Linked DNA regions of Homo sapiens: all the other regions are linked to region 2. Evidence: fine-mapped expression QTL. A gene starts in region 2. Each other region holds a variant in brackets. All regions are shown on one strand. Distances are between the middles of the regions.

What was found. PIP is the estimated chance that this variant, and not a neighbour inherited with it, causes the effect.
Region 1: its variant is fine-mapped to the expression of IGFBPL1 in thyroid (GTEx, PIP above 0.99).
Region 3: its variant is fine-mapped to the expression of IGFBPL1 in cerebellum (GTEx, PIP 0.98). The same link has a PIP of 0.9 or more in cerebellar hemisphere.

Annotation. Positions count from the first base shown.
Region 1 is chr9:38,376,262-38,386,965 of GRCh38, reverse strand. LOC107987065 (a long non-coding RNA gene) reads right to left here. Exons shown (of 3, transcript XR_001746670.2): 3 at 5,761-6,006. LOC105376040 (a long non-coding RNA gene) reads left to right here and starts at 10,597. Exons shown (of 4, transcript XR_929605.1): 1 at 10,597-10,681. RefSeq lists an enhancer at 5,215-6,163. The variant C/T (reference allele first, on the strand shown) is at 5,675.
Region 2 is chr9:38,419,178-38,429,881 of GRCh38, reverse strand. It overlaps IGFBPL1 (insulin like growth factor binding protein like 1), which reads left to right and starts at 5,428. Exons shown (of 5, transcript NM_001007563.3): 1 at 5,428-5,917. The coding sequence starts at 5,458. LOC105376041 (a long non-coding RNA gene) reads right to left here and starts at 5,271. Exons shown (of 8, transcript XR_007061487.1): 1 at 5,132-5,271; 2 at 3,119-3,232. RefSeq lists an enhancer at 104-4,383.
Region 3 is chr9:38,847,066-38,857,769 of GRCh38, reverse strand. It overlaps LOC105376043 (a long non-coding RNA gene), which reads right to left and starts at 9,221. Exons shown (of 4, transcript NR_188596.1): 1 at 9,095-9,221; 2 at 6,452-6,531; 3 at 416-464. The variant C/T (reference allele first, on the strand shown) is at 5,595.

The DNA of each region.
Region 1 (10,704 bases), 43 kb after region 2:
TTAAAGGGTCTTGAGGGAGAAGGAAGGGCGGTTGACACAATCCAGTTTGCAATTTGAAATGATCATTCTGGTTATAGTGTTTTATAGTGTGTGTCTCCTCCAGTTTCCAAGGAGGAAATAAGATTCCAAGTTATGTTACCAAGAACAGCAGGTGTTCATAATTACTTACGCTGGCAGCTGCTGGCACAAAGGGGTTCATTATAATGTCTATTTTTGTGTATATTTAAAATTTCTGGTAATAAAAAGTTAAAAAAAAAAAAAAGATTATGTTACCAAGTCAATAGCAAGTGTCCTCTGGGCTCAAACACTGTGTAATGAATCTGTTCTTTTATGACCTCATGATTGGGCCCGAGGGGTCCATGTCTTTCTCAGAATCCACGGTTAATTATTGAATAGCCCTCACCAAACCTAGTAGAGTTGGTGCAAAGGGCACTGGCAGGCTATCAGAGCCTGGGTGCTGGTTCCAGCCTTTCTGTGTGACCTTGAGCCACCACCTACCTCCCTCTGGGCCTCAGTCATCGCCACTGTAAAAAGAGGGGTATAGGAGGAGAAGGACACAAGGGCCTCTAGGAGACTGAAGCCCCAGAAAGTTGTAGTAAAGCTGTTACATAGTGTTCATTTGTTCATTGGCAGCAGAGTCCTTGGGCCACAAATGTTGGAGCCTAAATGCATGCTATTTGTTAAACCCAGTCAATTGACTTTCCCATCCTGTTATGGCTGGTTATGGGCCACTATAAGGCAATGGTTGAAGTACAAAGTATTGGCAGGGACCCAGTGTATCTTCATACACTTGCTGATGGAGCGAGCCTGAAATGCTGCCCTACCATCCATGACAGCAGGGCAGATCTGCCAAGGAGGGCGCAAAGGCTTTTTGGATCCACAGGGCTGATGCCTAGGTGACCAGAGTATGGGAGCTGCAGTGAGCGCTGATTACCCTTGCTTTCCACTTTGCCTCTCTGTCTCTAGCTAGTTCTTTCTGGTTCAAAGACAGTTTCCCCAGCACAGTCCCTTGTCAGGCCCAGCAGTGTCCACATCAGCAAGCATCTGCCACTCATCATTCCTTCTTTCACTCAGCTCCTGTTACTGCTGACCCACCTATGCCAGGCCCTGCCGTGTGGAGACAAATAAGACATCATACCTGTCCTCTGGCAACTCACAGACTGGGGAGGCAGACAGACATGGAGACTGGCATGTTTCCCTCACACAGTGTGAGAAAGAGAACCCAGAGAGTGGTGCCAAGAGAGCAGAGAAACAGGAAATGGGACAAAACAACTACACAAAGCCTGGGAAGGTCAGGGGAGGCTTCTTGGAGGAGCTGATGCTTGACCTGATTCTTGAAAGCTGAATCAAGGGGAGAAACAGCATTTCTGGAAGACAGAGCTGCATGTGCCAAAGGTCAGAAATGAGAGGGAGCCCTGTGGCTTTGGGTGCAGTAAGAACCTCCTCCTGGCTGGTGCCTGGGCTGTGATGGGATAAGTGGGGGCCATTGAGAGCCAAGTCTGGAGCCATAGATCATGCCAAGATCATGAAAGGCCTGAAGTGCCTTGCTAAGGAGTTTGGATGTATCCTGAGGAGGCACAGAAGTGACACAGGATGCTTCTCAGTCACTTTGCCAGCTGGGACCTCTGGTCAGCGATGTCCCCCTTGCCTGGGCCTCTCTGGGTCCCAGGCCTGCCGTTAGAGACACCCTACCCACTTGTCCCACCTGTGTTATAGCTTGTACCTGTGTTCAGCAGTTCTTGAGCTCTTGTCTCACATCCAAGAAGAATGAGGACATGCTGACAGTAGAAGGGTGAGGATGGGCAGAGAAGAATTTTATTGAACAATAGAACAGCTGTCAGCAGAGAGGGGATGTGGGAATTGGTCCCCCAGCCCTGCAGCTGGGTGGTTTCTCTCCTCAGTGTGGCTGGGTCTGGGGCTTTTTATGGACTCAGAATGGGGAATGCGTGTTAATTGGTTTGTGAGCATGCAAAAAAGGTTAAAGCGAAGACACCACCCAAAGGAGGGCATGAGAGTGTAGAAAACCAATTAGAAAAGGGTAGGCTTGTGTAAAATAGGTGAAGGGTGTGATCAGTCAGAGGAAGGTGTGCCAAATGGGAAGACAGGTTCTCAGTCTGGTCCAAGGATCTAACTTGTAGCTTGGCTTTTAGGCTTTGAACTGTCTTTGGCTTGGAGGTGGGATTTCACTGGGGACCACTCCTATCTGCCTAGGCATTTGGCTGCCTCCTGTCAGTATCAGAGGGATTTAAGGCATAAGGGTGACTTGGTTAGATGAGAACCACTTGATTTCCTCAGATCCTATGGCAGTGAGTGAGGAGTAAGTTCAGCTCTGAGTAACAGAGACTCGTATAAAAATGGCTTACATAAGATGGGAGTTGATTTCTCTAAAAAAGTAAAGGAAGCCCAGAGGGAAGCAGGTGAGGGAGGTGGCTCAATGATGCTCAAGGAGGTGGACCCCTTCCAATTCCCACTGGTCACCCCTAGCAGGGGAAACTGTCTTCATGATCCCAAATGGCAGCCACCACATCTACATTCTAGGGATCAGAAGGCGGGTGGGAATGAAGAAGACAAAAGGGCAAAGTGTGCATGCCTCTGGCTTTAGAGGAAGGCTCCCCAAAGCTAACCCCCAAACAACTCCATTTATATCCCATTGGCCAGAACTTACCTACATGGTACAACTATCTGCAAGGCATGCTGGGAAATAGAGTCTTTAGGGTGGTCAGAATATTGGGGCTTTCATTTCTGTGGCTTGGTGGGAAGAGAGACACTGGGGGCTAACTAGGAGGTTCTGTCACAGACCCCTCCAACTCTGCTATGAGGAAAAGATTACTGGCTCTGGTTGACAGATAAGGACACTGAGGTTCAGAAAGAGAAAATTACTCACTGGTAAGTGGTGCATCTGCAATTGCAAAGCTTGGCTTGGAATTCCACACTCATAAAAGCACTAGGCAAGCTAGTGGAGGTGACTGACTTTGCACTGTCTCCCCTCTCCAAATCTGATAATCTGATTCTAAAGGTCCCCCCATAGGTGTGCCTCAGTGAGTCGTCAAGGAAGAGCAACCCCTGCCTCCCCAATTCAAGCAATTCTCCTGCCTCAGCCTCCTGAGTAGCTGGGACTACAGGCGCATGCCACCACGCCCGGCTAATTTTTGTATTTTTAGTAGAGACGGGGTTTCACCATGTTGACCAGGCTGGTCTCAAATTCCTGACCTCAAGTGATTCACCCCGCTCAGCCTCCCAAAGTGCTGGAATTACAGGCATGAGCCACTGCACCTGGCCAAGTTTCTCATATGCTTCTGATATATAACCATATTTGGGAAGCACTGGCCTAAGTGGTTTCTGAGGAGTCTTTGACTCCGTCATGGTTATTTCCAGAAAGTGACTTCGCCTGCAAATGTGTTGTGTCTAGATTCTATCCAGCATGACTACCTTGACACTTTCTAAGCTGTGACTGGCATCAGAACTCACCAAAGTGGTCCTGTTGCAAGGTATTTACCCCCTCAAAAATAAAAAGTAATAAAAAGAAAACCTTCCACAGTGCTTGACATTTATGGTTTGGAGAGAAGAACCAACGTGCAGTAGCTGAAGGTAAAATGCACAAATTATTTTTGCAGAGGGTTGACTATTTTCCAGGAATGTGATGGATTGGAATGCCACACTCTTAAAAGCACTAGGCAAGCTAGTGGAGGTGACTGACTTTGCACTGTCTCCCCTCTCCAAATCTGATTCTAAAGGTCCCACCATAGGTGTACCTCAGTGAGTCATCAAGGAAGAGCAGCCCTTTCTTTTTTATTTTTGAGACAGAGTGTTGCTCTGTCACCCAGGCTGGAGTGAAGTGGCACCATCTCGGTTCACTGTGGCCTCCGCCTCCTGGGTTCAAGTGTTCTCGTGCCTCAGCCTCCCAAGTAGCTGGGATTACACATGCATGCCACCATGCCCAGCTAATTTTTGTATTTTTAGTAGAGACGGGGTTTCGCCATGTTGGCCAGGCTGGTTTCAAACTCCTGACCTCAAATGATCTGCCCGCCTCAGCCTCCCAAAGTGCGTGAGCCACTGCACCCTGCCTGAGCAGCTTTTTCCTGAGAGGATTCCAGGATGGTTGTTCCCACCCCTGGCCTTATAGAATCAGGAACAGATCAGGAGAAAGGGGGTCCTTAGAATTTCTGGTCCAACATCACCATTGTATAGATGAGGAGACTAAGGTCCAGAGAAGGGAAAGACTTCTGTAGATCCCACAGGGAGTGAGTGGGAAGGTCTGGATAGGGTCCAAAGTGAGAGCCCACATATAGTCCAGTCTTAGTTATGGCTCACCTGGTGCTACGTGTGGGGTTTGGACAACCTTTTCAGCTAGACTGAAGCCTCATTAAGGCCTCTGCTACGGGTTGGTGAAAGAAATTGCCCCAGTGTTGGAATAACAAAGATGCTTCCCGTTGTCTATCTGTTCACACGGATTATGGGCCATGGAATACTCCTTCCCTGGAACAGAGAGACAACGTGTGTGAGGACGAGGATAGACCCACAAAGGAGAGAGGGCACAAGGTGCTGTGGGCAAAGCCCCCAGCTGGGGACTGGACCCCAGGCTGTCTGACTCACCATGAGCCCTCTGGGCCCAATTATCCTCACGGTGAAGGGATTGCACTAGATTACAGACTAAGCCAGGTGCAAGGGAGCTGCTTACCGGGCCCCCACCCTCTGGTGGCCCCTGAGGAAGCTCCAAGGGGCCCGGTGGCTCCAGGCTTTCCTAGATCTGCCCCTGGGCTGATGCCTGGACATGTTCATGAGGAACGGGAAGGAAAGTGATCAGGAGCAGGAGCCAGAGAGTGTGGCCTCCACCCCGTCACGAAGGGTCCTTCACAGGAGGATGGTTGGGCTGGGTCTGTCCTCCCAGGCCCAACTTCTTGGGCCAGAAATACCTGTTAGAAATGAAGGTAGAAGCAGACAGATCAGGGCTCACCGGCTCAGAAATGGCTCCACTCCCAGCTGCACTCCTGTTCAGTGAATCCAGGCAGGCTGGATTCTGCTGTTAAAGGATGGGAGAATCTCCTCAAGAAGCCTCTCTCTAGGCTAAGAAGGGCTGGAGCCTGTGCAGGGGCCCCAGCCCAGGCCCAGGGGTGAGATTTGATATACTGAGGAATGGAGCATGGGCACAAAGCCTGGCTGTAATTCTGTGCTCACCCTAACCCTAACCCTTGTGATCTGGTTGGCCATGGTGAGTCATGCGGAAGTTCAGGGGGTCCCAGGCCAAGGGCCGTGAGGACAGAGTGGAGGTGGCACCTAGGGGCTCAGAGAGGGGCTGCTTACAAACTGGTAGGTGAGCATTTTGTATTAAAGTACCCGTATGGCTGTACTAGGGCTTTTCCATGGAAAACGAGTCTTATATTATCATTTATGACTGAGCCAGAGGGGTTCATCCCTGTGATGGGAAGAATATGAATTAACAGCCTTGTGACTCTGTACAGAAGAAGAGCCTGAACCCCAAGGAGGGTCAGGGTCCGTCCCAGGCCAGGCAGGGAGACTGGCAGGGCAGGGCAGGGCGGGGTGGAGTAGAACCCCAGGCTGTGCATCTGTGGCATTTGAGGTGCAATTACTGCCTGCTGGGGACAGATCAATGCCTCTAATAGACATGTTTATTTAGGGAATGAAAGGCTCTTTCACTCTTACCGAGGAGGAGTCA[C/T]GAGGCAGCTGAACAACCCTCCAGCTGACCAAGGCTGGCATCTCAGATCACATTCCACCTGTCCCATGATGGGAGGAAGAAACCGGTGCACTGAACGGGGCTGTTTATTCACCAAACAATGTTTGCAAAGCTGCTGAATCATTATCTTCTTCTTATCACTGTTCTCTCCTTCACAGAGCATGGGGCTCCCTAGTGTGCAGGCTTCAGGCCTTGCAAAACCTGGATCCTCCCTGCTTGTTTTCCTGATTGCTGCTCTTTGGAAGCCCCTGAGTTCCATTCCCAAAGCTCTCCTGAGCAACAAAGCCATTTCTTCCTCCGGCCAAAGACCACCCCTGGAGAGCACAGGAGAGGAAAAGCAATTATTTTCGAAAACTCAAAGGCCTCCTCTTCAGGAAGCCCTGGAATCCATAGTAAACAAAGTTCCCCATCTTATCTGTGAGAAACCTGAAGGAGGATTTTAAAATTCTGGTGTGCCTGTCAGAGCAGAATACGTGTAAATAGGCAATTTCCTGCAACCTTAAGGCACGCTGGGAGGCAGACACTTACCAAGGTGACATTGGCCCAGGCGCCTGTTCTGTGCTTTGAATGTGGCACTAGAATCCCTAAACCAAGCCCGAGGGATGCAGAGTTCTGATTAGATCCTGCCTTGTGTCTCCCTAAGGTGTGAAATGCTTGGTTTTAGTGCACCTGAAAAGGTCACTGAGTAAGTGATCTACTGAATCTTTCTATTCATAAGAGGGGATATAGCAGGAGGCACTGAAAGATGATCCAGGTACAGGTGGGGATACTGAGACCCAAGAGGGAAAAGGACCACTGCACATCCACAGGGAGTCAGTCGTGAGTCACAGTAATGAATTGGTGGTTTACTATGTCCTACTCACTTTACAGGGATTACCTTACTTGAGGCTCATCACACCCACGTGGGGTAACCTAACACTGATTTCTATTTTAGAGGAGGAAACAGATTTAGAGAGATAGGGGTGGTGCTTGGTGCTGGCTACATATTAGAATCATCTGGGGCCTTATATTAATAAGTACTGATTCTGGTCTGATTCTTGAAGGTCCATTAAAAACAAGATTAAAATAAAAAGTACTGGTGCCTAAGCCCCTCTCCTGAGGCCAACTTGAATTCTCAGGGTAGGCCTTAGCCATGGGTATAATTTGAGGTGCTCCAGGTGATTCTAATATGTAGCCAGCGTTGAGACGATGGGGTTGCAGAATTTGCTCAAGGTTACATGGCCAGTGAGTGGTGGATTCTACCCCGGGAGGTCTGACTCCACTAGGCCTCACCTGAGCATGCTGGAAATCAGTGCAACTCATTACCCTGCAAAAAGTATCTGCTCCCCTTAACATCATCTTCTGTGAGCCTGAAACCTCTAGTACATGCAGCTCTGGGACCACAGGTGTGCTTTCTTTCCTGCTCTAAACTCTCCTGATGGTACCAAATGGATATGATGCAGGGTATTCCTTTGCTATTGTTGCTGTAACAATTGCTACAAATTTCCAGTTCAAAACACACACGTCCAAGGAAAGGTGCAGTGGCTCACACCTGCAATCCCAGCACTTTGGGAGGTGGAGGCAGGTGGATCACTTGGGGCCAGAAGTTTGAGACCAGCCAGGCCAACATGGGGAAACCTCATCTCTACTAAAAATACAAAAATTAGCCAGGCGTGGTGGTGCACGCCTGTAGTCCCAGCTACTCAGGAGGCTGAGTCAGGAGAATTGCCTGAACCCGGGAGGCAGAGGTTGCAGTGAGCCAAGATCGAGCCACTGCACTCCAGCCTAGGCAACAGAGTGATACTCTTGACTCAAAAACAAAAACCAAAAACCAACCCCTCCCCCCCACCCCCCACACACAACCAATCTCTTGCAGTTCTAGAAGTCAGAAGTGTGAAATCAGTTTCACTGGGCCAAATTCAAGGCATCAGCAGGGCCCTGCTCCTTTCTGAGGCTCCAGGAGAGAAGACATTTCCTTGCCTTTCTCAATTTCTAAAGCTGTTTTTCTTGGATTCCTTATTTCATAGCTCCTTCCCCTCTCGTCTTGCTAGTGTTACATTGTCACCTCCTTCTTCTGTGTCAAATTTCCCCCTCCCTTTTCTCCCCACCCCCCTTCCTTCTCTCTCTCCCATCTCTTCTTCTACTTTGTGAGGACACAGCAAGAAAGGGAGAAGGCAGTCATCTGAAAACGAGGAAGACAGCCCTCACCAGAAACTGACACTGTTGGACCTGAATGTCTCCATTCAGGTTCCACATAACCATCTGTGATCTAACTGAAGGCCATTGGGCCAAAAACACGTTGGTTGATATCAGTTTGGTCTAAGTAAAATTTTTTTTTAAAGAATGTTGTAGCCAGCCTCCAAATGGTTCCCAGTGAACCCTGCCTCCTGGTATTCCCAGCTGCCTGCATTGTGGGGTTCCCTCCCACACTGTATCAGGGATGGTCTGTGTGACCAACAGCATATGGTAGATGTAGCGGTGGTGTGCCCGGAATTGGTGGGTTCTTTGCTCACTGACTTCAAGAATGAAGCCGTGGACCCTCACGGTGAGTGTTAGTTTTTAAAAGTGGCGTGTCCGGAGTTTGTTCCTTCTGACATTCGGATGTGTTCGGAGTTTCTTCCTTTTGGTGGGTTCGTGGTCTCGCTGGATCAAGAGTGAAGCTGCAGACCTTCGCAGTGAGTGTTACAGCTTTTAAGGCAGCGCCTCTGGAGTTGTTCATTCCTCCTGCTGGGTTCGTGGTCTCACTGGCTTCAGGAGTGAAGCTACAGACTTTTGCGGTGAGTGTTACAGCTCATAAAGGCAGTGTGGACCCAGAGTGAGTAACAGCAAGACGTATTGCAAAAAGCAAAAGAACAAGGAACCCACACCATGGAAGAAGACCCGAGCCAGTTGCCACTGTGGGCCCGGGCAGCCTGGTTTTATTCTCTTATCTGGCCCCACCCACATCCTGCTGATTGGTCCATTTTACAGAGAGCCGATTGGTCCATTTTACAGAAAGCTGCTTGGTCCGTTTTGACAGGGTGCTGATTGGTGCCTTTACAATCTCTGAGCTAGACACAAAAGTTCTCCACCTCCCCACTAGATTAGCTAGATACAGAGTGTCCACACGAAGGTTCTCCAAGTCCCCACCAGAGTAGCTAGATACAGAGTGTCAATTGGTGCATTCACAAACCCTGAGCTAGACACAGGGTGCTGATTGGTGTGTTTACAAACCTTGAGCTAGATACAGAGTGCCGATTGGTGTATTTACAATCCCTTAGCTAGACATAAATGTTCTCCAAGTCCCCACCAGACTCAGGAGCCCAGTTGGCTTCACCCAGTGGATCCCACTCATACTGGTGCCGCAGGTGGAGCTGCCTGCCAGTCCCAGCCGTGCGCCCGCACTCCTCAGCCCTTGGGTGGTCGATGGGACTGGGCGCTGTGGAGCAGGGGGCGTTGCTCGTCAGGGAGGCTCCGGCTGCGCAGGAGCCCATGGAGGGGTGGAGGAGGCTCACGCATGGTGGGCTGCAGGTCCACAGCCCTGCCCCGAGGGGAGGCAGCTAAGGCCAGGCGAGAAGTCGAGCGCAGCTGCTGGCCCAGGTGCTAAGCCCCTCACTGCCCGGGGCTTGCGGGCCACGGGGCCTCCGAGTGCGGGGCCCGCCGAGCCCACGCCCACCCGGAACTCCCGCTGGCCCGCAAGCGCGCAGCACGCAGCCCCGGTTCTCACCCGCGCCTCTTCCTCCACACCTCCCTGCAAGCTGAGGGAGCCGGCTCTGGCCTTGGCCAGCCCAGAAGGGGGCTCCCACGGTGCAGCGGCGGGCTGAAGGGCTCCTCAAGGGCGGCCAGAGTGGGCGCCAAGGCCGAGGAGGCGCCCAGAGCGAGTGAGGGCTGTGAGGGCTGCCAGCAGGCTGTCACCTCTCAGTGGTATGTCCTATCCAAGATTAGATGATGAAAGATTGAGGCCCATCTTGGGCTTTTTTCTCTGATCTCTCACTCCGGGAAGCAAGCTGCCATGTGAGTCTGGAGAGGCCCACCTGGCCAGGAATGGAGGCCTCCCTCCAGGCTGCCAGCATCCCCTTGCGTGCACTTGGAAGTGGGTCCTCCAGGCCAGGCAAAGCTTCGGGTGGCTGCAGCCCTGGCTGACAGCTTGATCCAAATCCCACGAGAGACCCTGAGCCAGAACCAGCCAGCTAAGCCACTCCTGGATCCTGATGCTCAGAAATTGTTGTTTAAAGTTGCTAAGTTGGGGACAATCTATTAGGCAGCAATAGGTAGCTATTACAAGAGATACTTTCAGTCTCTTTTCTAGTATTGGTAATTTTTAGTCCCTCCAATGAGGCACTTTGCCAACTTTTCAGTAACTCAGAGCACTTTTTTCCACTTTCCGGAAGTGTGCAGAGATTCATTTTCTCTTTTAAAAATGTTCAGCTTATTTTCAGCCACTGATCTCTGCATTCCCATGTTCTAATATTAAACAAGGCCAAAAGAGGATGACTTAGAATGAACTGATGTCTGAAAATGAAGAATTTGCTGGGACAAGTGATGTGGCTTATCATTGGGCTTCACTGACATTGAGGGTGAGGTGCAGAAGGGACCATGAGGACCCTCTGGGCCAGCAGTACTCAGAGGGTGGTCAGAGATCGCCTCTCAAAATCATGAGGACTTGAGGCTCATCCTCAGACATGCCCACTTGGAATCCAGAGGGGTGGATCTTGGAGTCTGCCTCCTTGACGAGGGGCCCCGGGGATTTTCCCCGGTACCCTGACCCTGACCCTGACCCCGACCCCGACCCCTGCTGCAGGCCCACTCTCCTCTGTTGTTGAAAGGAAGTCTTATCCGCTCAGGCTGCCATAACAACATACCACACACTAGAGAGCTTAAATAACAGAGTCCACAGCTTAAATTTATTTTCTTGCAATTCTAGAGGCTGCAAGTCCAAGATCGAGGTCCAACAGTGTCAGTTTCTGGTGAGGGCTGTCTTCCTCGTTTCCAGATGACTGCCTTCTCCCCTTCTTGCTGTGTCCTCACAAGGTAGGAGAAGGGGTGGTAGAGAG
Region 2 (10,704 bases):
GTGTCATTTTCAGCAATACTGACCCTGTAGCTGCAAGAAATGTATTCTTATTTATCATTTAAATAAATAATTTGTATGATTATTGAAGCATATTTATAGTTAAGCTTTCTAGTTCTCTGATTGTGACCCATCTTTGACAGTTGTTTCCTGGGACCACTCCTGGTTCTATTAGCTAGATCACTCAGGCCTACCTAGTCAGATGACAAATAGAATTCATTTCTCTTTTTTTCTTTTTCAGGCATGCAACAGCTCTGTTCCCCAGGCTGGAGTGCAGTGGCTTGATCACAGCTCACTGCAGTCTTGAACTTCAAGGCTCAAGTGATCCCCCTACCTCAGCCTCCTGGGTAGCTGGAGGCATGTACCACCATGCCCAGCAAACTTTACATGTTTTTGCTAGTAGAAAAGAGGTCTCACTATGTTGCCCAGGCTGTTGAAGTCCTGACACAATCCTCCCCACAAACCTTGGGAGGTACAGGGATTACAGGCATGAGCCACTGTGCCAAGCCTACAAATGGAATGTAATATAAAGAATTATTGGGCCAGGCATGGTGGCTCACGCCTCTAATCCCAGCACTTTGGGAGGCCGAGGCACGTGGATCACCTGAGGTCAGGAGTTCGAGACCAGCCTGACCAACATGGCGAAACCCTGTCTCTACTAAAAATACAAAAATTAGCTGGGCGTGACAGCATGCACCTGTAGTCCCAGCTACTCGAGAGGCTGAGGCAGGAGAATCGCTTGAACTCAGGAGGTGGAGGTCGCAGTGAGCCAAGATAATGCCACTGCACTCCATCCTGGGTGACAGAGTGAGACTCCGTCTCAAAAAATAATAATTAAAAAAAAAAAAAGAATTATTGGCTGGGCACAGTGGCTCATGCCTGTAATCTGAGCACTTTGGGAGGCTGAGGTGGGCGGATCACTTGAGTTCAGGAGTTCAAGACTGGGATCGACAACATGGCAAAACCCTGTCTCTACAAAAAAAATACAAAAATTTAGCCAGGCATAGTGGCAAATGCCTGTAGTCCCAGCTACTCAGGAGGCTGAGGCAGGAGGATGGTTTGAGCACAAGAGGCAGAAGTTGCAGTAAACCAATATCGTGCTACTGCATTCCAGCCTGGGCGACAGAGCCAGACCCTGTCTCAAAAAAAAGAAGAAGAAGAGGAATTATTAACTAGGCAACTTGGAGGTAGCAACTGTGAAGCAGCTACCACCATGAGGGCTAGGAGAACAATGGAAATGGCTGGAATGACTAAAACTTAGATGCGTATAAGAGGGGTCCTTGGAGCTCAAACTGAGACCTCTGCAGGGTGTGCCACTAGGCTGATGCTAGTGTCACTGAGCTTGGAGAAAGAACCCCAGGGGGGCTGGGGCAGTTCATTCTGGGTGGGCCTGAACTCTAAAATCTTATCAGCACTGTGTGAGCCCCAAATCTCTGCTCAGCTCTCACCTCCCAGCAGCCTCCCTCAAGTCTTGCCCTGTACTTGTGCAGTACAGGGTCAGCCAAAGGTCTAAGACTTGTGGGATTCCCTCTCTGTGGTTCCTCATTTTCTGTCCTAGATCCCCAAATCTCTGCCTTACTCCTGAATTCTGATGTCTACCTCTTCTGTCCAGTGAGACCACTTGGCCTCCACCTCCCTGCAGAGTGGCCTGGAAAGTGTCCCCAGGGAGAATGCTTGGGTAGATGTGGGGCTCACATTGTGTACCCCCTGACGCTCTCAAGGATCACAGCCCTGTATTAGAACACTGTCCAGTGCCTGTCCATAGCTGTTTTCTTTAATTTGTCCAAGTTATATAGTGGTTTACAGCAGAACAGCAAATCCTCTACCATTCTTTTTCGTCTGCTCAGTATCTGAATTCCCATCTTTGCAGAGTTCTACATCTTGCTACATCCCCTTGCATGCAATATTGAAGTGAAATCTGTCTCCCTAAAAATCCCATCTGTCATTTATGGAACTTCCCTCTAGAAATTCACCTTGCCTTCTGCTCTGTAATCGCCCACCAGAGGTCTGGAGAAAGGGCTTTCACCTTCCTTTAGCTTGGAGAAGACTATCTATGATTGCCCTGACTATTAAAGCTTGAGGTTCAAATCCATGGCCTATTTATGGAGTGGCCTTTGCTCAACTGAGCTTCTATTCTCTTCCTCTGTGCTGGAAGCTCCCCAAGGACAGAGAATATCTGCCATTTATCTCTACGTTCAAGGGAGGAATTAATGGATGGGACATTCATACCCACTTCAGCAGCTGCCGGGTGGGCACACATCTGCTCTGAATGGGGGATTGGCTAGTCTTCCCTGTGTTGTGTTTGTTTTCAGGCTGGAGGCTGAAGAGGAAGAAAATCACACCCATTCTTGTTGCCTAATTACTTACCCAGGTGCATGGGATCTCTCCACCTGCCAGACAACAGAGGCACCTCAACCCCCCTTCCCGACTGGGAGAATTTGTCCCTACTTTCTCCTATCATCTTAGGGGGCCCACAGGTGTGGCCCACAGTGTTAACTGGTACTCTGGGAACCAGAGAGATGAAAGAGCACAAATGCCTCTGCTGGGCTATGGGCTTGCAGGCAATTTTAAAAGGAAATAGACATGACTGATCACCTTCAAAGCTTGGGAATGTTTTCTCCACCCAGATACAGGGGCTTTGATGCCACAGGCTCAGTGTTGGAAAATGAGTCTTCTGATTTAATTCTCAAAGAGTCGTTATGCATACATAGTACTCTCCCTACCATTTAAAAGGAATGTAGATCATATGTAAATGCGCCTCTGTGAGATTGTGTATCCTAACCTGCATTAAGCACACATTAATTTCATTATGACACCGTTCACTTACTCCTCCTTTAATGTCTGCATAAAAAGCAGGCAAATCATTTCTGTACACATTTATTTCTCAATCATGACCATGTTTTGTCCAGTCCAGGTCTCAGGGTCGGGCACTGTACTACAGGAATGGTGGCTCAGTTTGAGGTAATCAAACGTCAACTCCCCTGACCCCTACTTCTGACCCCCTCCATGCTCCTTGCCAAGACTCATTCTTAAACTCCTTCTTTGACAAGGACCTCACTATCTCTGGAGCAGCCTGATCTCTCTTTGGACAACTATGAACCATTAGAAAGTCTGAACTTACCAGCAAAGTTGTCCCTGAAAAGCAGCATGGAGTTCGCTTATCTCTTTTGTTTGCAAATCCTGCTTTGTTCATTTAACATTATAAGTGTTTCCTTCTCATAGTGAGACCCCATCTCTGAAAAAAAAAAATTGTTTAAATTAGCCAGGCGTGGTGGTGCTCACCTATAGTCCTAGATACTCAGGAGGCTGAGTGGGGGAGGACGGCTTGAGGCTCAGGAGTTTGAGGCTGCAGTGAGCTATGATCATGACATTGCACTCCAACCTGGGCAGCAGAATGAGGTACCATCTCTTTTTTTTTTTTTTTTTAAAAAAAGGGTTTCCTTCACATCATTAAAAACAATCTTAAATTTTTGCATGTTTACACATTCACATATTTACAAATATGCCATTACATTAGATGTGCACTTTTTAACCGCTATTTTACTAAACAATGTATTATAAACATGTTTTCATTTCTATTAACCCATATTTTCTTTCTAATTGTTAATGCCTGCATAATCCTCTATTGTTAGATGTACCATAATTTATTTAACGATTGCCTCTCGGTGGGCATTTAGGTCGTTAACTTTTTTTATTTTTATTTTATTTATTTATTTATTTTTTGCTATAGTAACCAACTCCAGGATGAAATCTTCACACATAGTGATCATTTTTTTAGGAGAGATTCCTGGAAGAGCACAGAGGGGTCAAGCGGTGAGAGCACTTTAAAAGGCCACTCCTGGTAAAGACAGCAGCCTCCAGGTTGAAAGTCACTGTTGATAGGTTCTGAGAGCTGCGCTGAGTGCATTACCAACATTGTTATATTTATTCCTTACCACCACCCCTTCATGGTGCCTAACCGCCCCTGCTCTGTGTGGCTGATTGTAAGGTAAGGCCTGGCGTGGACCAGGCAGATGGCCCTCCTCTGACCACCACATAAAGTGGCCTCAGAAGAGGCTCCTTTCTGGGGATAAGAAGACTGCAAACTGGGAAGGAACTGGGCTTGAAAAGCAAAATGAACCCCACCCAAGAACGGTGTAGCTGGTCTTCCCAGGCTGCAAGAGGCTTTCTCCATCTCCAGGAGTTCAGCAAAGAAAAAACAATAGAGCACAAGACACATGAGGGGTGGCCAGTAAAGGCAGGAAAAGTCTCCTATAAAACCTGCTCAGCGAGTCCCTCCCTCCATCCAGTGCATTTACCCAGCAACACATCAAATCCCAGCAGCCAAGACTCTCTTAGGTTTCTCGTCTGGGTGCCCTGCCAGAACTCAGGCAGGATGGTGTGCACAGAGCCTGGCCCAGAGAAGGCGCAACGGCGGCATGAATAACTGACTACAAGAAACTGCATCTTTCCAACATGCATTCCCCAGTAAGCCACAGGTACACTGACCCTTGTGCACCAAGACTTCATCAAAGCATTATTCGTATTAACCAAAGGATGGAAAATAAGTGGTTAAATAACTGCAACTAAACCCTGTGGAAAGGCCACTCTGTATGAACTCCAAAATATATCACCATATCTCATCACAACAAAGTCACTGTGGACGGAGATGTACCATGACTTTATGCAGCATTAAGAAACACACTCACAGAGCCAATGAACTATGCTCCCATTGATTGTATAAGAAACCCAGTTTCACAGATGACAAGAGGTGGGGAAACTGTGAAACACTGTAAGTGCAAAAACCAAGTGCAGACTAATGTGTATGGCACGCTACTCTGTGTGTGTGAGAGAGAAACAGAGTGTGTGTGTTTTAAAGGAAGGGGCTTTTTTAGGCACATGTACTTTTATAGGCATAGAGAAAATTTCTGAAAAGATATACAAAAACCCGATAGCAAGAGTGGCCTCTGGAAGCCGAGTTGGAGGATGGGGATACAAGGTGGTAGGGTAACCCTCTTTTCATCCTTAGATGTATATGTAAAATCTACATTTTAAACCATATATTCTCTTTATAAAATAAAACTTTGAAAACTACTGAATGCAAAATAAAATTAAATAAAATAGCGCATCCTTCTGGGAGGATTTACGGGCATACTATCTGGAGCCAGCCTTGGATCCGGAGACCGTACGGTTATCCAATCCTGACTCTGCCATAGCGACCTCGGGCAAGTTGTCGCCCCGACTGGGTCTCGGTTCCCTCAAGAGTCCAATCGGAGGTCGGAGAGCTGCTCTCGGGGCGACCCTCCAGCTCGGAGACCCGGGCCGCGGGCACCGCGCGGGTCCCGGGCTGGAGCAGCGGTCTGCGGGCGCCCCGCGGTGCAGGCCCGGCCAATCAGCGGCCGCGGGGCGGGAGCGGTGACTGCTCGGCGGGCGCGGAGCGGAGCGCGAAGCAGAGGCGCCGCCGCTGTCCCGGAGCAAGCCATGCCGCGCTTGTCTCTGCTCTTGCCGCTGCTGCTTCTGCTGCTGCTGCCGCTGCTGCCGCCGCTGTCCCCGAGCCTTGGGATCCGCGACGTGGGCGGCCGGCGCCCCAAGTGTGGTCCGTGCCGGCCAGAGGGCTGCCCGGCGCCTGCGCCCTGCCCGGCGCCCGGGATCTCGGCGCTCGACGAGTGCGGCTGCTGCGCCCGCTGCCTGGGAGCCGAGGGCGCGAGCTGCGGGGGCCGCGCCGGCGGGCGCTGTGGCCCCGGCCTGGTATGCGCGAGCCAGGCCGCTGGGGCAGCGCCCGAGGGCACCGGGCTCTGCGTGTGCGCGCAGCGCGGCACCGTCTGCGGCTCCGACGGTCGCTCGTACCCCAGCGTCTGCGCGCTGCGCCTGCGCGCTCGGCACACGCCCCGCGCGCACCCCGGTCACCTGCACAAGGCGCGCGACGGCCCTTGCGAGTTCGGTGAGTCAGGGTCGGGGATTGGGTGGGTAGAGAAGGAGGGATTCCAACCCTCTGGGGTGTGGAGCGAAGGATCCCCCTGCCCAGTGGTGGACGGCGCTGCCTGGCACTCAGTTTCCCCTTAGGGAGCAGTATTTCATATCTCTCCTCGTGCTCAGAGAGACTGGGGCGAGAATCCTTGGAGACGCCACTCACTGTGCTAGTCGAATTTTTGGTGAGCCTGCTACCCCTTTTGGTACTTAAGTACCTGCTGATGCAGTCACTTATTTGTAGGCATGGTATGTTTGCCCAGCAGGAGACTGGGAGTTAAGGAGGGGGATCCGAGTTCCCAGGTATCCAGCGCTAGGTGGATTGTTTGAATGGGGAGGAAGGGAAGTTGAGGTTGGGGGAGGAAGGGAAGTAGAGGATAGGGGAGGAAGGGAAGTTGAGGATGCAGGAGGAGGATGAGTTCCAGACTGGGGAATCAGTAGTCACCAGGCCACAGCACCAGAGCACCAGGGCCCCCGGTGTGGGAAGGGGCTGAGCTGGGATGCTGAGGGAGCTCCATCCAGGAGAAGTAAGACCTTTGGAGACGTAAGGTCTGAAAAGATTGTGGTGCTATTAGGGGCAGACTCAGGTTTCGTGCTTCTAAAACATATATAATTTGGAGAGTCCTGCCTTAAGTAAAGGAATAGAACTGCTAGGGACTTAGAAACTTATTATGAAATGCTAGGGACTTAGAAACTTAAGCTTCATTAACATCACAGTAAAATAATCTCTGAGTGCTATAGTTGCCCACCCTCTTTATGTACCTTTTGAAAACCAAACAAAAAGAAACCAAAACGTTAGCACTGCTTTACCGGCTTCCTAAGCATGAGTGTATTCCACCCACTAGGTTTTGAAGTGCCGCTGTGTACTTTGCCTGGAGTGGGCAGTGCTGAGTTTAGGGTGAGTGAGAAGGTGGCCAGTGAGTCCCAAGGAGCCTGGGTTTCGGCCTGGAGTTCAGGCTTCTGGGAAATAATTCTGGCCTGAGCCCAGAGACCAAGTCCAGACTTTAGTGCCTAAGTCAGTGTAATGACTTAGCTTCAAGAAAGAAGCCTGGGGTGGGGTGAGACCTTTCCAAGCCTTAAGAAGTATCTAGTAGTCTTTCCTCTCAAGTAGTTCAGGTAGATGTACCCAAGTCCAGGAGACGCAATGGGTTGTTGGAGATGGGGCAGGAAGCCTCCAGTCCTGGGAAATGTAAAACCAGTGTGTGGCCAGTTGAGCACAGGAAAGTCACCATTGGCTGTTCCTAGCTGAAGCTCCCCATGGAGGACAGAGCTGGCTGGGGGTGCATCTGTGCTGCCGCTGGCTCCCTGAGTGGCCCTGGACGGGTCCCTTCCCCTCTCTGGCCATATCAGCCCCAGTGGAGTCATTGTTGAGGTCCCTTTCACTCGGAACAGTTGGTTTCCGCCCTGTGGCACTTAAACAGTCCTGTCTCTTTCCTTTTGCTAGTTCCTATCACTCGTTTTTATAACTGCTTTCCTCAGCCGTTAATTCACAGGCAATTCTCTTTGTCTCCAGACAGGTAACACTTTTAACTCCACATGCAGGAGACAGAAGAAATGCTGACCAGGTCCTCAGACTATAAATGCTGCTGATGATCTCAGATAATTTCTCCCCAGAGTGGCATTCTCTTCCTAAGAGAAAGGCACCTTAAAGACATTCAGACCAAATCTGCTGTTATACAGAGAAAGAGACTGAGACACAGCAAGGTCAGAGCCCTTGTCCAGGGTGACCAGTAAAGGATGACCAGCTCCCTGGTCCCAACACCCTGTCCAGTGCTCTTTTGGCACAGGACTTAATAGTATTAAGTCAGGCAGATGGTGGTTACCATGGTTACCAGAGTGAGGCCAGATGGCAGATGGAAACTCCATACCCCTAATTCACTGAAAATTACCAAATGACAAGTAAATGTGACAGCCCCTTCACTCTGATCTATGGGATCTGAGGCCCACCCCAGGCACAGACCCAGGGAATAAAGATATTCGTGGGGCCACATGGAAGCAACTCAGAACTGGTTTTCATGATCTCATTACTGACAGGCGTCAGGCCTCCCCGGGGTTCAGCCCTTCTTCCGCACCAGCCTTTGTGTCATCCACCACAGAACCGGGCACTGTTTGCCTGTCACTCTCTGTCCTGAAGTGCTAGTGTGGCCTCTGCCCTTGTGTCCAGATAAAGCATGAAGGTTTGGACAGGGGATGTTTCCTAGCCCAGGCAGCAGCTCATTCTGTGCTGCCCTAAAGCCATCTTTTATTCACAAGACACAGCGGGAGCGTTTTTTAACAATGCCTCTGGGGATCCCGGTTGAAGGAAAACAGACTGTGAGTCAGAGCAGGGCTGTTCTGCTTCAATATTCATGATAAAATCACCCCTCCTGACTCCTTGGGTACCCAAGCACCTAGATTTCATGGAATGAGGCCTCGGGAAGTATTTATTATGTTGTTCACAGTGTGTGAAGGGCCCTTATACATGCCTCTGAGGAGCCTGGGGAAGCAGTTTTCAGGCTTAAATTCTGCCCTTTCCTCCTATGCCCTGAAATGCCCCAAACTGCCACATAATGAGAGTGATCCTTTGATCCGCACACATGTATGGAAGACTCACATATGAATAATTCTTACTGTTGGAAATTGCTTTTGCATCCTTTTTTTTTTTTTTTTTTTTTGAGACAGGGTCTCACTGTATCTCCCAGGTGGAATACAATGGCTTGATCACAGCCCACTGTGATCCTGGGCTCAAGGAATCCTCCTGCCTCAGCCTCCCAAGTAGCTGGGACTATAGGCACATACCATCATGCCCAGCTGATTTTTAGAATTTTTTGTAGAGACAGGATCTTACTGTGTTTCCCAGGCTGTTCTTGAACTCCTGGCCTCAAGCACTCCTCCCACCTCAGCCTCCCAAAGTGCTGAAATTACAGACATGAGATACCATCCCTGGGCTGCACCCATCTTTTTACATGATTTTTACAAGTGTCCTGGGGAGGTCTCCTTCCCATTTGATAGAAGGGAAAGCTGAGGCACATGGAAGGAAATTCCCTGGAGCCACCTGGCTGGTCCCAGCTGTGAAAGGGCTCCAGTGTAGGTTTGCCTGGCTGTTTTGTTTTGTTTTGTTTTGAGACAGAGTCTCACTCTGTCACCCAGGCTGGAGTGCAGTGGTGTGATCTTGGCTCACTGCAAGCTCCACCTCCTGGGTTCACGCCATTCTCCTGCCTCAGCCTCCAGAGTAGCTGGGACTACAGGCGCCCACCACCACGCCTGGCTAATTTTGTTTTTTGTACTTTTAGTAGAGACGGGGTTTCACTGTGTTAGTCAGGATGGTCTTGATCTCCTACCTCATGATCTGCCCGCCTCGGCCTCCCAAAGTGCTGGGATTACAGGCGTGCGCCACCATGCCTGGCCTGCCTCGCTATTTTCAGATGGGCGCTGCACAGCTAGCCGCTAGCAACCTGATCAGTAAGGTGCTGTGCACCCGCCAGCCTTGAATCTTGGGGGTTTCTCAATCTGGGTCCACCTTCCTGTTTTTCCCAAGGTTTGTCACTTGTCCCTCTATTTAGCACTGGGCTATAGCTCCTGAGAGAAGCCTTGAAGGATGGGGAGAGAATCCCAATGCTAGCAAGGGGGAGGCACAGCATGAACTGAGGCTCAGAGGTGGGAGCCCTTTGGTGGGTGTGCAAGTGGGCCCATAGGGCCGAGGCCTGGTAGGATGGTTGGGAAAGGAGATGACACCCCAGAGTAGTTTGGGGTAGGCCACTGCAAGCCTTGGGTGCAAGGCCGAAGGGGGAAGCTTCATTCTGCACTTTGGGAGGCTGAGGTGGAAGGATTGCTTGAGGCCAGGAGTTCAAGGATAGCCTGGGCAACGCAGCAAGATCCCATCTCTACAAAAAATTCTAAAAACTAGCTGGACATGATGGCATGTGCCTGTAGTCCCAGCTACTTGGGAGGCTGAGGCAGGAGGATTTCTTGAGCCCAGGAGTTCGAGGCTACAGTGAGCTATGATCATGCCACTGTACTCCGCCTAGGAGACAGAGTGAGACCCTGTCTAAAAAGAAGAAGAAGAAGGAGGAGGAGGAGGAGGAGGAGGAGGAGGGGGAGGAGGAGAAGGAAGAAGAAGGATGCAAAAGCAATTTCCAACAGTAAGAATTATTCATACGTGGGTCTTCGATACATTCTGAATTATTGGTTCAGCTTCTCACTGGTAAGGTGGTATGGCCTTAGTATTATGATGATTATTATTGCTCTCATTACTTTAAAGGCTGGATAGTTCAGTGTGTGCACCCTATTTGTTAGCATTGGGAGAGGGTTGGGGTCCTACGGACAGCAAGTTAATGTCATGTTTCAAATGATAAATTAGATAGGAACAGGGTCCCGGCCAGCACCCGCCAGGGCATTGAGCCCTGGCAGCTTCGGTGAGCTCCTGAGACCCTGAATCTTAGAAAATTCACCTTGGTTGAAATTCCAGCTCCACTTAGAAACCTAGGTCTGTGCTAGTGTGTGTTACCAGGTAACCAGGAGAGGCAGCGCATGCCACTTCGTGAGAGGGACAAAGAAGGGGGTTTGTGCTCAAAACCCTTTCATGCTGAGGGAGGAGATCTGAGGCAGAGGCTGCAGGGAGCAGGATTAAGCTGTTTCTTGTTCCACATCATAACGTGACTATTAGCATAAATTATCAGGGCTGTTCAGTGTGTTGATTATTAAAATCTTTGGTTATGTGCTTTTTAATACAAGCAGATGGGGTCCTGGGGAATGACTTGATATCCTTTCTTTCCCTAGCAC
Region 3 (10,704 bases), 430 kb before region 2:
CAGCTACTTGGGAGGCTGAGGCAGGAGAATGGCGTGAACCCGGGAGGCGGAGCTTGCAGTGAGCCGAGATCGAGATCCGGCCACTGCACTCCAGCCTGGGCGACAGAGCGAGACTCCGTCTCAAAAAAAAAATAAAATAAAATAAAAAATAAAATTAAAAAAAAGATCTGCTGGCTGATGGACCAAACACAAAAAAGCAAACAGGTTTTACAGGACTTAGTGCAAATTAATGACAGTTTATATTGCAATTTATTTTGCCCTAGATAACTTCCTTTGCAAAGATGTCAGAGAAAAGGGAGAAGGCAGTATTAACAGACAAATTACAAAATGTGTTACAAGTAACATACAAATATGTGCAAAAGTTCTTTCATTTATTGGTTTATTCACCTTTATGCAACAATTATTGAGCACTTACTATGTGCCAGGAAAGACTTCACAGGACAAGATCTCATGGACAATATATCCTAGTGGGCAAGACAGAAAATAACAGATAAGTAAATATATAAAATAATTTTAAATAGTGATGTATGCTATGAAGAAGATAATCTTATGTTACTGTCCTATCTTGGTAATTTAGCAGTCTCAAACTTTATGAAGCAGGTATAAAGAAAGGCTAACTTACGTGCTTTCATCTGAATCATTACATCAAATGATTGAACCAAGAAAAAGCCTTCCTCAGTTGGCTTCTTCATGAAAGTGACCACATCCTCCTTTCATGGAAACCGTTGGACTCACTCACTGACAGGATTTGACTTATCCTTCATGAATGTTGAAAATAAAATTACAGTTTTTTTGAAGTTTAGGAAACAAAAAAGAGTTTATTCAAGAAATAATGCCTGTGATAAAAAGAGCTCATTTGCACCATTTCTACCTGATTCTGAGTAGGCTAGTTAATGTTTTAGAAATTGCATTTGGGACTCAAGCAAAGCCTTTTGAAATTTAATGTTCTGTATATTCATAAAAGCATAATCAGATGTGTATTATTATTAAAAGTTCCTCTCATGGTTTTCATTTATGGTAAACGGCAATATGAAAGGACATAAAGAATACAAATTGATAAAAAATTTCCCTTAAAAAAAAAAGATTTTAGGATCCCCTTCCTCCTGCAAGACAAGTAGTTTCTGATGAGATTTGATTGACACTATGAGGTCTATGCACCTGGGTTGATATTCGTGTCTGTTTTTGCAATTAGAATACGTATTAGTGCTGACAAGCCTGGAAATTCTTCAGCACTTTAAAAGAAGCACAATTTTAGTCTTGCAAAAAACCTAATTATAATAAACAAAAAAATTATAGCTCTGATCATAGTAACCAGGTTGCAAACTCCTACCCAATAGTAGGAGTTTCAAACAACCTTCATTTAAGTTATTGTATTCACTTCACAGAGGAAAGAAATAGGGCAATTGAGCATTAAACAGTGTTGCAAATATGACTGGAAAACCTCCACCTGATTCAAGGGAAGTGTCTGTCCTCGGTGAAATGGGAAGATTGGTCAGGGGCCTATCCCCCTCTTGGAGGTAAATGAGGCCAAGTATTAATATTATTCTAAGCAGGTGGAGGTCTTACTATATTAGTCGGATAAATTCTAAAAATTAGGTTTATGCTTTAATGAGCTGCAGAAGGTTTGATTTTTTTAATGCTTCAACTGATCTGAATTCCTAACTCACAATACAGAATGGTCTTATGAAATGTCCCTATTCATAAAAGGTGCGTATTTCAATTTCTAGACAATTCATTAGACATTCTTCTCTGTTTAATCCATAAAAATAAAGCCTATTTCATCATGATTTGGATAATTTTGCAAAGGACGATGAGGCATCCCAGAGCTGGTTGCTTGCATAAACTGTTTTCATTTTCATGAATTTGTAAATAAATTACTGCCTGAACAACCAGACTTTTATAAGTCTTCAGGGTAGCTGTATTTAAAAAATTATACATAGTACTCTGACAGTACATTTCTCTAAAGGAAGTCAGAAAATTGTTCAAAAAGTATTTGGATTCAGCTTCTAGGACGTATTTAAGGTAGCAAACCTGCCCACCACCAGAGTATGAAGTAAAACAAGGCTAAGAGTGATAGAAGCATTTTTTTTTCTTTGAGATGGAGTTTTGCTCTTGTTGCTCAGGCTGGAGTACAATGGCACGAAGTTGGCTCACTGCAACCTCCAACTACTGGGTTCAAGACATTCTCTTGCCTCAGCCTCCCAAATAGCTGGGATTACAGGTGCCCACCACCATGCCCAGCTAATTTTTGTATTTTTGGTAGAGACGGGGTTTCACCATGTTGGCCAGGCTGGTCTCAAACTCCTGACCTCAGGTGATCCACCTGCCTTGGCCTCCCAAAGTGCTTGGATTACAGGTGTAAGCCACCACCCCCTGCCAATAGAAGCATTTTTTAACATGAGAGTCATTTAAAATTGCATGAGATCCTACCACGTAACAAACGCTGCATGCGTGCACTTTATGGGTGCATTCACATATGGCACCTCTTCCAAAGGGCATGCGATTTGGATTCCATGAAATTGAATGTTGCAAACTCATCAAAATGCAACCTTTAAAACTAGTTTTCCAAATGAAGAAACATCATAATACAATTTTATAGGCCGATGTGGAAAGGCTGTGTTAAAGACTGAATGCCTGCTCTCTGACACGTTCATCTTGTCAAGGCTTCCCAAAGGCACTGCAGACTTTGCAGCTGTATTAGCAGTGATTCCTTCGTTTGGAATGCCTGTTCCCATGCGCACACACTCTTGCTGCAGCCACATCATATTTAAAATCTGCCCTGATCCTCCTGGTTGACATCAATGTTGTCACTCCTCTTCATTTTCATAGCATTAAGCCCTATTTTGTACTTAACAGAAAGTAAGTTCGGCACAGAGGGAAGAGAATTGGGCCTATTTTGTTCATATCCCATCTCTGGAGCTGAGCATAGTGACAGGTACACAGAAAGCTCTCATCTGGTATTTTGAATACATTATAACATTTTCCCAGTCTTTTCAACATATTGTCTCAGCACTGGTGGGGGAAAAATGCTGCAAAGGCCATGCTTTTCCAGCCTAAATCTTCCCCAGGACTGGCACAGTGAGTGGCACATAGTAGGGGTATTAGTCCCTGTGGCTGCTTAACAAAGTATCACAGCTGGGCTGCTTAAAATAACAGAAATTTATACTTTCATAGTTCTAGAGGCCAGAATTCCAAAATCAATGTGTTGGCAAGACCACACTTTTCCTGGAGTCTACGGGGGTGGACTGGTTCTTTGCCCCTCCCATCTTCTGTTGGCGTCCCTAACTTGTGGCTGCATTACTGCGGTCTCTGCCTCCATGGGCACTTAAGTTCCTCCTCTCCTTTCTGTGCTTTCTCCCTTTGCCTCTCTTTTATAAGGACACTTGTGATCATAATTCAAGGCCACCTGAATAAAGAAGGTTCGTCCCCTCATGCCAAGATCCCTAACTTAATCACGTCTACAAAGACTCTTTTGCCAAACAAGGGAACACTTCCCAGTCCCAGGGATTAGAATCTGAGATCTTTGGATGACCATCTCTCAATCTACTACGGTAGACGTGGAGTAAGTACACGGAGTTTTACCAGTACAAGCACAGTGATACATGATCTGTTGGTTGATTCCATATATCTTGTTTTTGATGCTGTTTGCCAAAAAATATCAAAAGATCACAGCTCTTCTGCAAGGCAGTCATTTAAGCAGAGAAATAAATCCACTGTAACGGTGTTATTTCTCACTGTTGTTTTCTTAGCTGAGTGGCTGGTTTCTTAAGCATAGCCACAGCATCCGATGAACCCTAGAATTTCTGTTGCATTTGCAATCATCTCTCCAGTCACTTGGGTCCTTCTGCACTCGCTTCCTGCTCTGACTTATGTGGCACCATTCCACCATGTGGCAGGACTCCCCATCTTTTTTGTGGCACTGACACGATAGGACACTACACATTTCTAACCTTTATTTTCAACAGATTGTTCCCTCACTCAGCATAAAATTTCATCCAGCATTCTCATCACACGGTGAGGGTTCACTGATTTCAATGGTGTATGAAAATGCAGCTCTGGGCTGGGTGCGATCCGAGCACTTTGGGAGGCCGAGGCGGGTAGATCACGAGGTCAGGAGATCGAGACCATCCTGGCTAACACGGTGAAACCCCGTGTCTACTAAAAATACAAAAAATTAGCCGGGCGTGGTGGCGGGCGCCTGCAGTCCCAGCTACTCAGGAGGCTGAGGCAGGAGAATGGCGTGAACTCAGGAGGCAGAGCTTGCAGTGAGCCGAGATCGTGCCACTGCACTCCAGCCTGGGAGACAGAGCAAGACTTCATCTCAAAACAACAACAACAACAACAACAACAACAACAATGACAAAAGACTCTCTGTTGTATGTGGCGTCAGAGACAGAAGCAGATGGCTAAACTGGCCTGTGCTGGGATCCCAGCACTAAAAGCCAGATGGTGTGGATTTCAGTCAGATCTTTCATAACCAACAAATTTGAGAAACAGATGAGGCAGGGCCAAGAACTACTAATTTTTTCATTTTATAAATAAGCACCATTAAGCTTTTCTTCTATAAAGCCTCTTGATCTAACCACTAACTAAGCTATTTGTCTGAAATCCTCAAGTCAATGTAGTAAATAAGCATTTACTAAATTTAAATTTAATAAAATAAGCATTTTTTTTCCTCTTTTGGCCAATTTAGTTCTTTAGAAGTTGGGTTAACAGAAGCCAACTTCACCACCGTCAAAACATATGTTTGCTTTTACATAAGTAGAGGCATGCTGTTACTTCTTTTTAAAAATAGTTTAGGCCAGGCGCAGTGGCTCACGCCTGTAATCCTAGCACTTTGGGAGGCTGAGGCGGGCAGGTCACGAGGTCAAGAGATTGAGACCATCCTGGCCAACATGGTGAAACCCTGTCTCTACTAAAATTACAAAAATTAGCTGGGTGTGGTGGCGCAGGTGTGTAGTCCCAGCTACTCGGGAGGCTGTGGCAGAAGAATCTCTTGAACCCAAGGAGGTGGAGGTTGCAGTGAGCCGAGATTGCGCCACTGCACTCCAGCTTGGCAACAGAGCAAGATTCTGGCTCAAAAAAAAAAAAAGTTTAGTGTAGAAAATAGTACTTTCAGATTGGGCTACCAGTGTACCATGCATAAATGAAAAGTGTCCTGTGTCATTAAACAGATGCATTTAAAAAAAGAATTTTTTTACAGGTCCACAAACAAGTTTGAAATTAGAAGGAAATTGTGAGCATTCAAATAATAAAGTGGCTTAATACAATCCAAATAAGCTGAAATGTTCAATTACAGAGTATAATATAGTAAAAATATAGATCCATGCTCTCTCAGTGCAAGCTGTCATCCCATGTCACAGCATGCACTATACGCCCTCTTCTTTTCTCTTACTAATATCTTTAAAGCTGCACTTGCACCCTTACCCTCACACGATCCTTCCTTACTTGCATGCTTTTTTTTTTTTGAGACGGAGTCTCGCTCTGTCGCCCAGGCTGGAGTGCAGTGGCGCGATCTCCTCTCACTGCAAGCTCTGCCCCCCAGGTTCATGCCATTCTCCTGCCTCAGCCTCCCGAGTAGCTGGGACTACAGG[C/T]GCCTGTGACCATGCCTGGCTAATTTTTTTGTATTTTTAGTTGAGATGGGGTTTCACCATGTTAGCCAGGATGGTCGCGATCTCCTGACCTCGCGATCCGCCCACCTCAGCCTCCCAAAGTGCTGGGATTACAGGCGTGAGCCACCGCACCCGGCCTGCATGCATTTTTAAACTGCATTCAACTCTTTAAATTCTTTTTAAATTTTATTTTTTAATTGACAAATAATACTAGAGGCAATGGTAACCATGAATTCTGAAAGAGATGACTGTTTTATTAAGAGCTTTTATTATTTTATTTTTGATCAACATAAAATAATTATACATCTCTATGGGTTACATAGGGATGTTTTGATACATACAATACAACCTTACTGAATTGTTTATCACATCTAATGGATTTTTGGCAGAGTGTTTAAGTTCTTCTATATATAAGATTATGTTGCCAGCAAATAGGGACAATTTGACTTCCACCTTTCCAATTTGAATAGGCTTTATTTCTTTTTCTTGCCTAATCACCTGCATAAGTTGTTATTGGATACCCACTAGATACTAGGCTGTTTGTTCTATGCTAGATGCTATAAGAATAGAAATATGAAAAAAAAATACCTACCACAAGGAATTTTAGTCCCATGGGCCAGCCCTAAGGCAGAGAGCTAGCTATGAGAGATATTGTGAATGGTACTAAGTGGCCAAGGAACACAGAGAACAGAGATGTGAATTCACATTCACAAGGGCTGGAGGAGGAAAGAGGCAACTGGTAGGTACGTGGCATTTCTAGGCCATTTGGTGTTGGTTAGGCTTTGAGTAGACAGATAAGAAAATAAACGGGTTTTCAGTTGGGAGAACGGTATACCCACAGTATGAAGGCAGAAAGACTCGAAGGTTGTCTACCAAACAGCTTTCAGACCAGTGTGATCCAGGAGACTGGGAGAACTCTCTGAAAAAAAAAAAAAAGAAAGAAAGAAACAGCATAAGTCGGATAACAAGGACCAGACTAAGGTTGGAAGTTTATTCATTAGACCCTAGAGACCCATCAAAATGTTTTGAGCAGCGTTATATTAGATGGGTATCAAATACTTCTGGAATCCATTGGTACTGGATTCATTATATTTTAACCACTCCACCAGGCCTACCATTAGTTACAACATGAGAAGCTAAACGTTATATTCTAACCAACACTTTATCTCCAGTTTTTGCAGAGAAAGCAGTCTGAGCTGCTGCTTTGACTCCACTCAGTAGTTTGTGATTAGTCTGAAATGCTCTACTGCACAGAGCAGGGTCAAGCACATTTCATACACTTGTTTAACAAGTAGCACTCAGGAAGTATATTTTCTGATCCACTTCATAGTATCACAATGCAAGCCGAAAACAATGACTGAAGATGGCAAGATAAAACTATTTGTAATGGAAGCAAATATAAGTTATCCACTTTTATTATTCAGTCCTCTGTTTGGATGGAACACATGAATATTAAAATGGCTGTATTTCATTCCTTTTCAAAAGTAGTAAGAGAAGGATAATCATATGCAATAAAGCATTTTCGGCCTGGGTCTTTATGACAGCTCTAAATGCCTGCCACATTTTAAATACCACAGGTGCAAAACAAATGTATAAATTCCCTGTTACATAATTTTCCATTTATATTGTAGAGAAACAAAATACAGTGTAATGGGGAATTTAATTCTCTGAATAGAAATTATATAATCTCAGCAAGAAAATTCAATAACAGCTTCTACACAGATGGCAAAAATCTGCTGAAAGATCCCAAGAGTAATGGAAGACAACTGGAATTTGCATATAAGATTGGATATCACCTTTCCAAAGCCGTGTCAATAATTTAGTTCCAATGTTTTCTGCGTGATTCACTAATTTTATAATTATAATTTTTGGCAGAATATGGGCTACTCAAAATGGTCCAAATGCAAAAAGTAGCTTTAAGCAGAACATGAAGTAATCTATCATCTTTTTATAAGTAAATAAATAATAATCACATTTGCTATTATTCATATGCTTTGCAAGTTTAGTATTTCTTTGTGTCCTGTAACATGTTCCCTTCAAAGTAATGGAAGATGGAAAATAACAACAATGAAAAGCTGGAACGTGCTCAAAATTTTGACACATCAGCAACACCACCAGTTAAATCCACATACTGCACTAAGATATACAGTTTAGTGAACAGTTGTCAGGCAAATCTATTGTGTGAGTGAACCAGCCAATGTGTTCAGCACTCTTATAACAACTAGTTTAGAACATTTTTTGATTGAGTAACCTGAAGACTCTAGGAGACTGAGAAGTGTGCAGAGACCCAGCCAGTAAAGATCTGGGACAGAAATTAAGAACGTTAGACTCCAGGTTGAGTGTTCGCTCCACGACACAGCAGAAGGGAATTGGAAAGACCCTTGTTTTTATAGTATCTTCATTGTCATAGGCTTCCTAAGAAGAAGAGTTCTAGGGGTAAAAGTCACCAAACGCAGAGGGAAAGTAAGTTTTTTTTCAGTGCTTTTTAATTAGCAAACTCAATAATGTTGGCAAATACATATATTCATCCCCTGAGCTGAGTCAACACAATCTAAATGAAAGAGAATCTGGGGGAGCATAAAGGAGGGAGGCTGTGAATTAACCAGCCTGGGGAAGCCTCAGACATCACTGATCAAGGTGGCCTAAGCATCTCCTGCATCCCAGCACATGTTTGGCTGTGGAGACACACTGTTTCAGAAGGCATACACACAACCACCAACAAAAACAGGTCTAGGTGGGTATTTTGCAGGGGAGACTCACAGGGCTTTCCTGCAGTACCATCTCCTCTCTTTATAAAAATTTAGAATCTTGTTCTGATTAGTCCAAACCCACAACCATGCCCTTCTCCCATTTTATCTGTTTCCCCCCCTATTTGGAAATAAATCTTATGGTTTAAATTACTTTGACAGGTAAATGCCAGTCCAGCATCAGCAAACCTGGTGGGTTGCCATAAGCTACTGGCAAAGTGCAACCACCAGGGGCGCCCGAAACCTGTGGAGGCGGAGATTGTGAGTTTGTCAAAAACAAGGACACCCTTAAAGCAGGCGCATTGCTGGGTGTGAAGCAGGGGAGGGGGCTTTAAAAAGGCCGTACCTTGGTCGGGCTCGGTGTTCACACCTGTAATCCTAGCACTTTGGGAGGCCGAGGCGGGCGGATCACAAGGTCAGGAGATAGAGACCATCCTGGCTAACACGGTGAAACCCCGTCTCTACCAAAAATACAAAAAATCAGCGGGGTGTGGTGGCGGGCGCCTGTAGTCCCAGCTACTCAGGAGACTGAGGCAGGAGAATGGCGTGAACCCAGGAGGTGGAGCTTGCAGTGAGCCAAGAATCGCGCCACTGCAGTACAGCCTGGGCGATAGAGCAAGACTCCGTCTCAAAAAAAAAAAAAAAAAAAAAAAAAAATCCTGTCCTCTATATATTGTCTCTTTTGGGATTCCACGAAGATGACATGCTAGTGTGGGACTGGGTCTCACCTCTCACCTGAAACTGGGAGCTGGAGGTCAATAGTCGTAACCTGGAAGTGCTGGCTGGCAAGGTTTTGGAGCAGGCTCATATAAGGGTGGTTGGAAGGTGCACTTCTTGAGGGTACGGCTGCTACAAAAAAAAATACAATAAAATGCAATGCAATATTTGGGACATACTTATACTAATTAACAGTATTTGTCATTTATCTAAAATCCAAATTTAACTGAGTGTCTTAAATATTCATTTTCTAAATCTTGCAACCCTACTTGTGGTAGAGTGGGGAGGAGTCACAAAAAAAGGAGGTTAAAAAGTCTCCGGGTCTGCTGTGTCGGAGAAACAGAGGTTAATACAGCAAGAGTCTGGGCTGGAAGTGGAGAAGTGGCTGAGATAAGAAGGCCCCTTACCTGACTGCCCTGGATTTAGGGGAATGGATGCTTCACAGTCTGCCCTGGGCATAAGAGTCAAGCAACATTCCTATGATAACCTGAAGAGTTCCATTTTTAACATACTGAATTTTGGATGGTGCAATTAATATCTGTTACACAGTTACCACATTGCAGTGTATCGATCATTTGCACTAATATCTAATTAAATTGTAAGTTCTGGCATTTTATCTTTCCATACCCATATCCTTGGAAAATGCTAGGTACATATTTGTGCTTGCTGATTTTTGAAAAAAAATTCAAAAAATTTTTTAACACATTTACTAATTAACCATAAACTCAGTATCAACCAGTGCTAAAACAGGGAAGAGGGCATGCAGCTACCTGGATATGGCACACAGCTACCTGAACAGACAATATTACAGGAAAGGCAATATACATGGAAAGTCTCTTCTCTCTGCACAAAAACGTATCTCAGAAAATAGTTTTTTCCCTGAGTTCCTGGCTCTGACATTAACAAAGGCAGACTGAGGGTGTCCCAGGTGACATACAGGATGGTGGGGGCTACTGACGCCTTTTCATGTGTAGAAAGATTAAAAGAAGGAAAGACAGGCCGGGCGTGGTGGCTCACGCCTGTAATCCCAGCGCTTTGGGAGGCCGAGGTGGGTGGATCACGAAGTCAGGAGATGGAGACCATCCTGGCTAACATGGTGAAACCCCATCTCTACTAAAAATATGAAAAAATTAGCCGAGCGTGGTGGCGGGCACCTGTAGTCCCAGCTACTCGGGAGGCTAAGGCAGGAGAATGGCATGAACCCGGGAGGCAGAGCTTGCAGTGAGCCAAGATCGTGCCACTGCACTCCAGCCTGGGCGACAGAGGGAGACTCCGTCTCAAAAAAAAAAAAAAGGAAGGAAAGAGAGAAGACAGGAATTAGGAGGTCGTTAGAGACTGTGACATTCACCTGCCAGATCCAGATCCAGGTGAATCTGACTCTTTTTCCAGAAGCCCAGTTTTAAGCATTCAAAGTGCCCAATAATGCAAGACAGCCTCGCAACGGTAACGGGGACCAGGGCTCCTGGCCACTGGAAAAGCTACAGCTGATTCTAGGGGAACAGCCAACAGAGATGTAATACATACCTGCATTTGGGAGGAAGCGAGGACCAGGCATCATTAAAGGCTTGTCTACATTTAAGTGTCTGTGGTTCCAGATGAACCTGTCCCAATGCTTCCCTCACCATTCT